Linked DNA regions of Homo sapiens: regions 1 and 3 are each reported to be linked to region 2. The links are microRNA targets in miRTarBase. Many come from high-throughput screens and were not tested one by one. Region 2 holds a microRNA gene; each other region holds the end of a gene's coding sequence.
The links. Region 2 holds the annotated microRNA hsa-miR-3927-5p (GCCUAUCACAUAUCUGCCUGU, at 2,562-2,582, opposite strand). A microRNA usually pairs through its seed, bases 2 to 8, with sites in the 3' UTR of a target mRNA and lowers its output. Matches are read on the target gene's strand: a 7mer-m8 pairs with bases 2 to 8, a 7mer-A1 pairs with bases 2 to 7 and ends in A, and an 8mer does both.

Region 1: the mRNA of SNX16 is a reported target of hsa-miR-3927-5p. Seed matches in the 3' UTR shown: 7mer-A1 at 520-526.
Region 3: miRTarBase lists ASB7 as a target of hsa-miR-3927-5p. Seed matches in the 3' UTR shown: 7mer-A1 at 2,439-2,445 and 7mer-A1 at 2,649-2,655.

What each region holds. Positions count from the first base shown.
Region 1 is chr8:81,797,712-81,801,858 of GRCh38, reverse strand. SNX16 (sorting nexin 16) reads left to right here. Exons shown (of 8, transcript NM_152836.3): 8 at 266-2,276. The coding sequence ends at 362. Among named protein-coding and RNA genes, the nearest start is that of SNX16, 42 kb to the left of the region's middle.
Region 2 is chr9:109,508,957-109,513,103 of GRCh38, forward strand. It overlaps MIR3927 (microRNA 3927), which reads right to left and starts at 2,589; the gene lies at 2,519-2,589. It also overlaps a transcript of PTPN3 not described here.
Region 3 is chr15:100,647,795-100,651,941 of GRCh38, forward strand. ASB7 (ankyrin repeat and SOCS box containing 7) reads left to right here. Exons shown (of 6, transcript NM_198243.3): 6 at 529-3,907. The coding sequence ends at 668. Among named protein-coding and RNA genes, the nearest start is that of ASB7, 47 kb to the left of the region's middle.

The DNA of each region.
Region 1 (4,147 bases), not on the chromosome of region 2:
AATTACCAAGTAGATTTTTATTGGTAAATGGTAGTTTGGAGAGCTGAGTTTAAAAACCTATCTCCAAAGGTCTTACTTGGCAATGACAACTTAAATATATCAAATTTCTGATTGAATGTTTAAATACTCTTACATTAAATACTTTTACACTAAGTATGTAAATTTTCTATAAGGTAGAAGATTTTTAAAGGTAATAGTGAAAATGAAATAATAGCATGCATCCAGTCCCATCATTGATATGTTCCTTTTTTTTTTTTTTTTGCAGAGCTGATAATAAACCATGCTTAAGTTTTAGTGAACCTGAAAATGCTGTATCAGAGATAGAAGTAGCAGAAGTGGCATATGATGCTGAAGAAGACTAATGTATCACAAGCAGTTCCCTCCATTTAGACTATTCAAAAATTTAGAAGAGTGGCAAATACTATTTTAAAAGAAGAACCAAGAACTGTAAAACATATAGAAAAGAGCAAGAATGCACATGTATAAAGTTTACATAAAGAAGTTTTTTTAAGTTATTGAGATAGGAAATATATTCACTGCTGCTTTTAATTGTATTTTATCCAATTACATTTAATACACTAAAAAAAATCTTGTTGGAATTCTGTTATCAAGGCCCACATTCTTAAATACTGTGCATAAATTATTATGGTGTTTTGCCTATATATTGCTCCAAACTACTGTGTATATATGTATGTGTGTTAAATCACCAATTATATTAATCAAATGGAAATTAATTGCATGTTACTATCTGGGTGATATATTCTTCTTTATATCTCTGACATGACATATTTTCATTAATAGTTTAAATCAGTGACCATCATAATAAAGATAAAATTTAGTTGAGTTTTTAATGTTTACATGTTTACATCTCTAAATAAAATTTGCTTATTTGAAATGTTAATGCTCTTTAGAAAAATGACTTTCTAGTACCAAAGGAAAACTACTTGAAAGAGCTGTAATCATATAGCTAAAGTGATAAGATAGCCTTGATTTTAAAAGCTGATTCATTAATATCAAAATACTTTAATAAGTGTCACAGTTATTAATATGTTACATTTGTTTAGTTTCCACGTAATCTTTATCTCTACCTAGATTTAGTGAGTTTGCCTCTTTCAGAATACTACCTCCTTTTGTTAAGGCATATTCTTTCGAAAATATAGATTCTAAATAAATAGGGGCTTATACAAAAAAGAAAATAAAAAGCCATATATACTGCAAAGTTCCTAACTGGCTTGACTCCTGACATTGCATTTTTATTTCTATTTGTGTGAAGATGTTGTTATACTGTATTATGGCTGATTTTCTTTTTAATATATTTAGCCAAGTGATGCACTTTATGATAATTAAACTCTTTTGTGCCAAGTTTAATTGGTGGATTTTTTTAGTAAGTAGAGTTAGGAGAAAGAATTATGTAGTGCCTTTACTATTTCACTTTCTACAAAAGTCTCCTAGGGTCTTTGAGTCAGCTTTATGAAAAAATGTTTGTTTATTTCAGCTTTGTGTACAGTCATTAAAAGTGCCTTGTTTCATTTTTATAGGATGAAGTTATTTATTTTCTATTTTCACTGTTTTGCATATTGCTGTTAATAAGCATTGTAATCATGCTGGCATTTTGCAATCCCAGTCGGTATGCTTTCTAAAAACTGAGGGAAACTTACTGGGGAAATAGAATAACAATCTCCATTTTTTTCTTTACTATCTAAAAGTTTATCGGTATCTTGATGTATATATATATTAAGGTGTGGCTGTTTAAAATTCTAATGACATATATCAACACATTCAATGGCTGTTGTTAACCTTTGAAGTAAAAAGGAGATCACTTTTTACCAAATAACCAAAAATTTTTAGTCTGTCAAAGTGCACAGGTATGTTCTCAGAACATTTTTCACAATGTGTATCAGAAATATGTTTGCTATCCTTAGAGACAGAAATGAATATAATAAATTGATCTGCTTATTTATTAAAATTATTATTCTAGACTTACAAAAGGCTTAAAAAGAACAATCATTTAATCAGTACCATTCTGTATCTTATATAACAGATCTTTGCCAAATTCTAGATATTATAGTGTTGCCTGTCTGTTCTAAAGCGAACCAGCCACTTTTTCAATCTGGCTTTTTGGAAGATTGTATTTAAAGTTCTTCAAGGATGAAGAAAAAAATCTGTTAATTAGGTAAACCACTATTATTTATATTTATAATTTACTTTTTTTTACTTTTATAATGCATTTTACTCCCAGTATTATGTTCATTTAATAAATTATTTTTTCACTACAACAGTAGCTGTGTTGTTCATATGTTGAATACCATTTTCCCCCTCCATTTTCTATATTCTCCCTATCTTTTACAATTATTGTAAATTGAATTATATTTAAGTGCTGAATTTCACAGATGTAGAATGAGTCTGATTTTCTTTTTAGGTTTACACTTTATATTGCTGATCATTTTTTGAAAGTCTTTGTGAATAGGTGCAATGCACTTTAACATAACCTATACTAATAATTCTAAAAATTGAATGTAACTGAAATAACATTTTTGTGGATAATCTTTTAACCTTTTAGAAATAAGTTTACATATAGTTAGTACAACCATAAAACAGCATTTTAAAATGTATCTACTACATCGAGATTAGCCATTTACAGCACATTTATTTAGAAAACCATGCTTAGATAAATTATCTATGTAGTCTAGTTCAGTCTGTGATATTAAAAGGGAACAGTGGCTTTAGATATAAAAATAATTTGGTTTTGAAATGGATTTTATTACTTATAGGAACACATGAGTTTGGGGATTATGATAAAACAAGTCTGTTTTCCCAACTAGCAGAAGAATCTAAATTTTATCCTCTAGGAAATCTTCAGAGAGCTACATATTTGATCCACATTTTGGCTCTTCATAGAATTACTGTTACTGCATTATGCTTTGTTTCTATGCTGTTGGCTCCTAATAGCAAACACAGTCATCAAAACATATATTTTCAATACATGTGTTTTTAAGGCTAATGGCTACTATTAAATATATCACATAGTGTACCTTTTATGAAGACCCATAGGAGAAACTTCTCTTGGGTCTTGATCTCAGCAAAACATGTGCTTCTCCTAAACAGTTGAGTTTCAGGGGAGGGTTGTGTGGTTTTTGTTTTGTTTGTTTGTTTGTTTTGGGACAAAGTCGCTCTGTCACCCAGGCTGGAGTGCAGTGGCGCAATTTCGGCTCACTGCAGCCTCCGCCTCCCGGGTTCAAGCAATTCTGTCTCAGCCTCCCGAGTCGCTGGGACTACAGGTGCACATCACCACACCAGGCTAATTTTTGTATTTTTAATAGAGACAGGCTTTCACCATATTGGTCAGGCTAGTCTTAAACTCCTGACCTCAGGTGATCCACCCGCCTCAGCCTCCTAAAGTGCTGGGATTACAGGTGTGAGCCATTGTGACCAGCCTAATTTGTTTTTCTCTCTTTTTTCTATTTAGTGGTTTTCCCTAATTTTATTTTTATTATACTTTAAGATCTGGGATACACGTGCAGAACATCCAGGTTTGTTACATAGGTATACACGTGCCATGGTGGTTTGCTGCACCCATCAACCCGTCATCTACATTAGGTATTTCTCCTAATGCTATCCCTCCGCTAGCCTCCCACCCCCTGACAGGCCCCAGTGTGTCATGTTCCACTCCCTGTGTCCATGTGTTCTCATTGTTCAACTCCCACTTATGAGTGAGAACATGCAGTGTTTGGTTTTCTGTTCCTGTGTTAGTTTGCTGAGAATTATGGTTTCCAGCTTCATCCATGTCCCTGCAAAGAACATGAACTCATCCCTTTTTTATGGCTGCATAGTATTCCATGGTGTATATGTGCCACGTTTTCTTTATCCAGTCTATCCTTGATGGGCATTTGGGATTCGTTTTCATCTTAAAGAGTCTAATGCTCTCTTTGTTGCTCCTCTTTGTCTTTTGGGCAGCTCTAGGCCAAATTGTAGTTCACTTGTATGGTTATGCTTTTCTGTTGTAATCATGACTTTATTTTTTATCTTCTTCAATTTTTTTTCCTATTTAAGTCGTTCTATTAGAACATACGTATTTTGGGAGCCAGGTGCGGTGGCTCATGCCTGTAATCCCAACACTTTGGGAGGCCGAGCTGGGTGGATTGCTTGA
Region 2 (4,147 bases):
GTCGAGGTGGGAGGATTGCTTGAGGCCAGGAGTTTGAGACTAGCCTGGGTAACATAGTGAGACCCCATCTCTATTTATTTTTAAAGGAAGATCTACAGGTGAAGGGCACATTCTTTTGTTGTCCACCTGTATTGCTGAGTGAGCTAATTCCAAACCAGCTCTGGGGCCTATGACCTCCATATTTGAGCAGAAGAATTAAAAAGTCTGTAAAATCCCTCATTGAAATTATCAGGAAATAAAGGGAAGCTAAAACCCTCTTAGTGTCTCATGGTTTTGATTTCATTGCAATCTAGAATTGTATATAGTGCAGTATCAATCATGGGAAGCTGCCCCAGTGTTGTCAGCCTCTGTGACAGTATTTTATTCTCACACTGTAGGGTAAATGCATTGAGGCAACCTTCATATTTCTCTCAATCCTGCGCAATCTGCAGTAACCAGCTTTCTTTGATTACCTAGATAGGCTCAGGGGCCTCTCCCTCTGCATTATCTACTAGATTCTCACTTTAACACATTATATACAGTTGTTTAAGTCTGCTACTCCAACTGTTAACTGTCTAACATCTTTTCTTATGCTGGGCTCCTGGATAGAATCTAGCACTTACTGAGAGTGTGATGAGTGAGTGAATTAGTTGACATTGGGTTGCCTTATTGATATGCCCGTCAGGCCAAGTTCCTTGACTTACTAAGGCCAGTGTATTATTTTCCATTACATTTAGTTCAGTGATATTTTAAAAATGTGCATAATACTAGCACATATTCAAATGCCAATTCACATGAGGGAATAATTTCCCAACAGTGTTATCTAGCTTCTTCTCAAGTTCCCTGGGTGGAGGTCAGTCTTTGTAGTTGATGTTGGGTTCCTGACCCAAACACAGCTTGTGCCAGTTATGGAAAGGAAAAAAAAAAAGGGCAGTTTTCCATGGTTTGGATAAAGAGGTGACCGTGGGAACATGTACAGCTCTGTCTGTAGTTCTGGTAAAGTCACTGAAAACGTAACCCAGCCCGGCTCTCTTTTGTACCCACAAGGAAATGGGGATAGACAAGGCCTGTCAAACAAGAGGAAATGGAGCAAAAGGAAATAGACCCATTCTGCAAAGCCATATGGCATATGCAGCAGAGGGAAGTGTTGGTCCCATTCAGGAGGGAAAATATCTCTTTAGCTATTTATTAGGAAACATTGAAGTAATCTTAAAAACTGTGCTATATAAAGAAAAGATATGAACCCCATCTATTCAATGGAAAAATCCAAATGCAGATAAAGGCTTATGAACAGAAATGAGTCATTATAGCACTGCTGATAATTGCCAAAAAATATGTAACAGCTGGGCGTGGTGGCTCACACTTGTAATCCTAGCACTTTGGGAGGCCAAGGCGGGCAGATCACCTGAGGTCGGGAATTCGAGACCAGCCTGACCAACATGGAGAAACCCTGTCTCTACTAAAACTACAAAATTAGCCAGGTGTGGTGGTGCATGCCTGTAATTCCAGCTACTCAGGAGGCTGAGGCAGGAGAATCCCTTGAACCCCGGAGGCAGAGGTTGCATTGAGCCGAGATTGCGCCATTGCACTCCAGCCTGGGCAACAAGAGCGAAACTTTGTCTTAAAAAAAAAAAAAAAAAAATATATATATATATATATATATATATATATATGAAACAAGCAACTGTATGATTATGAAATAGTATGTCTCACTGATTGTTATATAACTCAAAATTATTTTACGAGGAGATTGTAATCACGTGGGAAAATGCTAGCACTAGTGATAATGCTAGTGATTCAACTCCTGTTGAATCACTGCATTATTTTAAGATAGTGGTTCTCAAACTCCAGCATTCAAAGAGTGTAAGACAGAAAGCTGTATTGCTGGCCTAATTCTGTAAAGAAGAACACATTTATGAGCAAAAATGTGAAAGCAAATGTGCTAAAAGGTTTTTCTAGATAATGCTATGACTAGTGATTTTAATTTTCGTTTTTGTATTTTTAAAACTTCTACAACATATATGTGTTATTCCAAAAATCAAAAAGAAACATTAAAAAAATCCATGTAATCAATATCAAACACAAAACTTTAACTTTGCTCCCAGCAACAAATACATAAAATATTTAGGGGCATATTTTTATATCAAGGTGATTAAAGCACTGACCATGGGAATTTTATGACTATCCTATGGGAGGTTCAGCCATGGTGCTTAAGATACCCCTAGTGTCCTTCTCATCTCCTTTACACCAGCTCTGCTTGCAATCCTGCTGAGTCCTAAAATCCCCATGAGTAGGGGTGACTGTGAGCCATGGACGTGCTTAGCAAGACCAATTGGATTCCTTCACCTAGGAGTTTAAACTAGAGAACAGTGGGGAAGTGAGAAGATACACAAAGAGATGCCAGGTTCAAGGGGCAGCCACAGTAACTTTGACAGAATGCAGTGATCCCCAAAGAAGTGACTCTCTGGTGTCTACACTCCTGTGAATTCCCCTTTCATGCTGAGGCTGAGCATGGCCATAGGACTTCGTTTTGCCAGTGTGCCAATGCCTATCAAATATCTACCTGCCATGTTTGTCATAGGACAGGCAGATATGTGATAGGCATTGGCATATTGGGGTTGGCCCTCTTGGAAACCTGAAACCACCATGCCCTAAGAAGCCTGAGATGAACAACTTCATGGAGAGGGGCCCAGCCAGGCCAGGTTTATCTCAGTCGAACCCAGAGCAGACCTGTAGGAGAATCAACCAGCCAACACATTGCATCATGAGGACGGGAAAAATCATTGTCATTTTCAGCCACTAAGTTTTAGCAGTGTTTTGTTACCAGCAATGGATAACTGAGGCAGTCCCAATAGGAACTTTGGTTGAATCCCTGTATTATTTTAAGATAGTGGTTCTCAAACTCCAGCATTCAAAGAGCTGGGTCAAAATTCAAGTGTCTTTAGGGGAGAGACATTGTTGGCCTCATTTGCCTTTATATCCCAGTTCCTGGAATGGTGTTTATCACATACCTAGACCTGAAGAAATATTTGTAAATAAATGAACAAATGGATCTTGGGAGTTTGTTTAAAATATGCCCACCTCTGGAGATTTCTAATTTGGTAGGTCTAATTTGGTAGGGCGAGGTCCAGGAAACTGCATCTGAGTGATGCTGAGACAGGTGGCTTGCAGACCACATTTTTATCATCAGGGCCTCAAATTATCCTTGCAACCAAAAGAGGCAATTGACCAATCTTCCACCTGGCCGTGCATCAGAATTACCTGAGGAGCTTTTTAACGATATTCCTTCCAGATTCTCACCCCTGACCTACCAAATCTGAAAACCTCTGGAGGGGGAGACTCACACTCTACATTATTAAGAAGCTCCTGGGTGCAGCTGGTGCAGCTGGTCCACAGATTGGAGGGCATTTTTGCTGGCCTAACCAACACAAGTCTCCAAAAGCCATCTGGCAGCCAAACACACTTTTCTCACTCCTGAGAAGAACACACACCTACTCAGTTAAACATTATCACACTAATCTTTAAAGCTTTTTAAAAGACAGCTTTCATTTTTACGTCAAGAAATGTTTGTTAGGGACTCCTAAATCTCAGTGTCTCATCTGTCAAACAAAATTTGGTAACACCTGCTTCCTGAATGCCATGAAGACTACATGAGGTAAGGTGTGTGACCACACATTGAAACCGGAAACACCAAGCACAGGATTTTTAAGACTTTAATCATAAGTATGACATAAAGGAGATTAAAATTGTTTATCTATTTTTAGGTAATTATTCAGGGTTCTTTAGGAGGTACCTTGTTCCTCCTTAATCAGGGAGAGACAGGCCTTTGGGACCTCCTACACAAAATGTTTCAGAGAAGGGAAACCGTGGACACATTTCTTATTCCTGCACATGGTGTTTAAAGCACTGTGTGCTCTGAACCCTGCATTACCTTGTTCTTTCCTTCCCCTGGTCCTTTTCCCTCCCTCCTCCTGCCCCTAAGTGTCAGCCCTTCCAAAACACTAATGCAGTAGGCTGGTTCACATCTTTGACTAGCCCTGGCTCAAGCTGTGTATTATATCTGAAATGTTCTTAATTCATTAATTATTATTGAAACAGGGTCTCACTCTGTTGCCCAGACTGGGGTGCAGTGGCACAAACACGGCTCACTGCAGCCTCAACCTCCTGG
Region 3 (4,147 bases), not on the chromosome of region 2:
CCGTGGTGGGTGTCCGGGCTCCAGTGTCCTAGACCCAGAGCTGAAAGGGAGGCTCACAATAGGGGACATCTCTTTCAGTCCCCACACTTTTCAGATTGAGAAGCCAAGGCTCAGAGGAATGATTGGCTCACAGTGGCTCACCCAGCGTGAGAGAGACCTAGTCAGGACGAGAACCAGAATTTTCCTGATTTATAACAGAAAGGATATGAGGCTTAGAATCAAAACTGTTTTTGGTCTCAGTTGAAAGCCTTAATTGGTTGTCTGATATTAAGCAACTTGTTTACATCTGATACTCAGTTTTCTTATTGGTAAAATGGAGTTGAAAATATCCACCATCCCACGGTTGTGAAAAGGATCAAATAAGGCATCGCATGAAGGTCCTAGGACACTTTGAGTTGGTATCTTTCCGGTCCTTTGCATGTCAAGTCCATAGAGAGAACTTCCAGGGAAATGAACAGTTCTTTTCAAAAGTGCCTTAAATATTGTGCTTTGTGGCTTTGTAACATTTTCTTTTTTCTGTCTTTTTAGGACAGCCCAGAAACTTGCAGGACCTGTGCCGAATTAAAATTCGACAATGTATAGGCCTTCAAAACCTAAAGCTACTTGATGAACTACCAATTGCCAAGGTCATGAAAGACTACTTAAAACACAAATTTGATGATATCTGATATGCCAGAACTGTGAGCAAGATTAGGAGTTCTATTCTAGATACTTAAAAGGCTTTTTGCCTTGCACAAAGTATATCCTATGCAATTTCTGATTTGCTGTGAAATCAGAAAGCAGGTATACACTTTTGGGTTTTCTGTTTGTTTGGTTGGTTTTCATTGTAGGGGAGGGATTTTTTATATATATATAAAAACACACACCACATGCTTGAAGGTCTTAATTTGGTTTCTTGGTCCAAGTTTAAGAGGTCCAAGCTTTGTATACAATACTGCATTTAGAAAAATTGTCTTTTCTTAAATGACACAAGCAGGTTTAGAGTGGAGAATTTACCCTTTCCAAATTTATGGTTCCTTGGTAAGCACGGTATTCTAAACCAGCAGAGCACTTGTTAACGTTTGGAGGCACAGTTTCACCCAGGGCGACCCTGGGTTCTTTTGGAAAATGCCCTAAGAAATGTTTGAAGTAACGCTGTCACCTCATTCATTTTTAATGAGTACAAACTGGCCGTTTCAAACTGTTCTTTTTCCTAATTAATGTAGCTTTCGGATGACATAAATCCAGTATCTCTGCTTATGACATAAATCCAGTACCTCTGCTTTTCTTTTGCTGTGCTCTTGTTTTTAACTTATTTTTTTTTTAACAACTGTAGTACACTACCCTGAGACACTGCATCTCGATTTCTATCTCTAGTTAGAGTTGTACTTTTAAAAAAATTAACGGGAAAGAAAATAACTTTGTGAAGCCAGTGTATTCTGTTTTTAAAACTGTGCCTGCAGTGCAATACTCCTTCTGGTGTATTTTATCCATTATTTCACTTGCTGGTCGTCATTTCACAGCCAGCTTTGACATGCCCGTGAGGACAGGAGCCGCCGCTTCAGTTGTCACTGCAGAGCCATCGTATGTCAGTTGCAATTTCCATCTGAAGCTATGTCTTTGACTTCACTTTAAGCAGAAAATTTTGTACCCTGGTGGTCGAGTCTTCCCTTAAAAATTGTTAAATCATTTGGCTTTAATGGTTCAATAATTTGGGGTGGCTTCATGGTGTTTCTTTTCTTCCCAGTTTAAAAAAAAAACTTTTTAAGCGTAAAATCTTTAAGGGGTACACATTTATAAGTCTGGCTAATTTCTAATATGCTAATTAAACATTTCCCATTTTAAGGTTATATACAGTGAGGCTCTTCAGGACAATTATTTTCTGGGTTGATTGGGCATATGTTTGCCGTGTAAACACGGATATGATAAAGTGTCAGTAACAATGGAAAAGGTCCCAGAGGCATTAGGCATCTAAGAGGATGCCCTCAGAAACGTATTCTGGCTTGATTTGTGTTATTAACTTCAGAAGAACCTTTTCAAATGTCCCAGTATCGTTCTTAGTGCTTTGGGAAAAAATATTTAACACACTGTTAATAAATTTGTTATCAGAAGTTTACAAGACGAAGGGCTTCTCTCGTCTGAATTTCTAGATTTAAGTCATGAAGTGTAAAACTGTTTCACCCAGAAGTGTAACTAAGCAGAACTAGGAGTTTTCTCTGGCTTCACCTTTTTCAGAGCCAGCAGTGCTGTTTTCTCAAGCACAGCGTTTGCTCTTAGACTCTGATCTGCTTGTGCCTAAGCATTGCACAGGTTTCCGAAGACGGGCAGCTTCAGAGAAGAGGATTATTCGGGAGATTGCTGGTGTGGCCCATAGACTCTTTGGCATAGACTCTTTCGCAGGCAGCCACTCTGAGTGTGGCCAGTTCTATAACCATCCCCAAACTAGCTGGAGCCTGATGGATAGGAACGGGTAGTCTGTCCTCTTCCCCATAAAAATGTTCCAAAAAGTTATCTCCAGAGAGAGTCCCTTATGAAGACAGTTGCCAAGCTGTATTCTCATTCTTTAAACCAATACCCAGGTCAGGGCTAGTTCACACTAGCACTGTTAGGGACATGGTGTGGCTAGAAATGAATTGAGTGTGACTTCTCCCTACAACCCCAGGCCCAGGGATAGGAGGAGGCAGAGGGGTGCCTGGAGTTTCTGCACTCTCATCAGTGATGTTCATGTTACACTTGCACAAGGGCTGATTTCCACGTATGTGTGTGTTAATTTATTCACTTAGTTTCAAAAGATTTTCTCTCCCCAGCCATTCAGAGGTTTCCAAACTAAGCCACTGAGTTTGAGTCAGGGAATTCCACGTAAAAAGATCAGATTAAGGTAAATTCTTTGTTCTGTATTGCTGCTGTGACTTCAGAAAAAAAAAATTATGAGAGCTCTTCCTGGAATTTTGAAATTTCTATTTAATGAAGAAGTGTATAATTCCATTATTTATTGTTTGAGGTTTGATTTATCTGGAAGCTTAAAAAGAATGTTTTATTTTTGTTGTTAATAAAATCCCAATCACATTTCACAATAACTAAAATGTCTCCAGGTGGGTTACTGGTAGATGATAGTGGTGACACCTGCAGGTCTGCATTTGAATTGGATTCACAGAGAAGCATTCCATGGTCACATAATGAATAGGGAGAACAGATATTTTCAGAAAAATCAACCGATTGTTTTTTCCAGAAACAGAACAGAAAATGTTCAGAATATTTTCAAATTTGTCAGATTCTTTTATGTTTCCTTTGAAATTTATTATTTAAGCCTATTACTAAACCTTTATAAAAATATATTTGGCAAATACACCAAAGAAACCAGCTTACAAAAGATTATGATCATTAATGAACTGCAAACCTCATCTTTCGAAAACAAGGTTTTGTGTTTTTTTTTTTTTGTAAATATTTGTGTTTATAAATGTACAGCAGAGTAAGAGTGTTTTTTAGATTATTTAATTCCCATATTTCTAAACTATTTACTACACAGTAATCCATGCCTGTTAGTTTGGAGGACTTGACTGTCTCATTTTTTAATTCATTGTCAGTCATGCTTGGAACAGCATTTCCACTAGAGAATCCAGCGTTCTGGCAGTAGCAAGAGTACACATCTGGAGCATGAGGGACTCTAGCATGACTCGTCAGATGCACACCCCAAGAGACAAGAATGTGTAGTTTAATGACCGGCGTGGACCATACGAAATTGAGATTCTAACTTTCCTGCAGGAGTGCTCATGAGCCCAGAATGTGATTGGGATAAGGCCATTTGCCCACAAATTTAGCTTTCATGTAACTCCTAGTGTGTTATATCATAATGTATTTTGTTCTTCCTTTTTAATGTAAGTTTTGCTTTGGGTCAATTTGAATTAAAAAAATCAAATCTGATTTAAAACATGTTGGAGTTGTATTTTATTTCCAGTCTACCTTAAGTTTTTAATATGTCCAGCTATTTGGTGAAAATAAATAAAACTCTATCCTTCCTTCATCAGCATTTTAGATCGCTGGGAGTTGTTTAAGAATATGATGATGTGGAAAACAATACCACTCTCCATTGTCACCAGATAAGCCATTTCTTACCCTCCTTTAATTTGTTCAATGCATTCTGCAAATACCCACCAACAAAAGATGATCA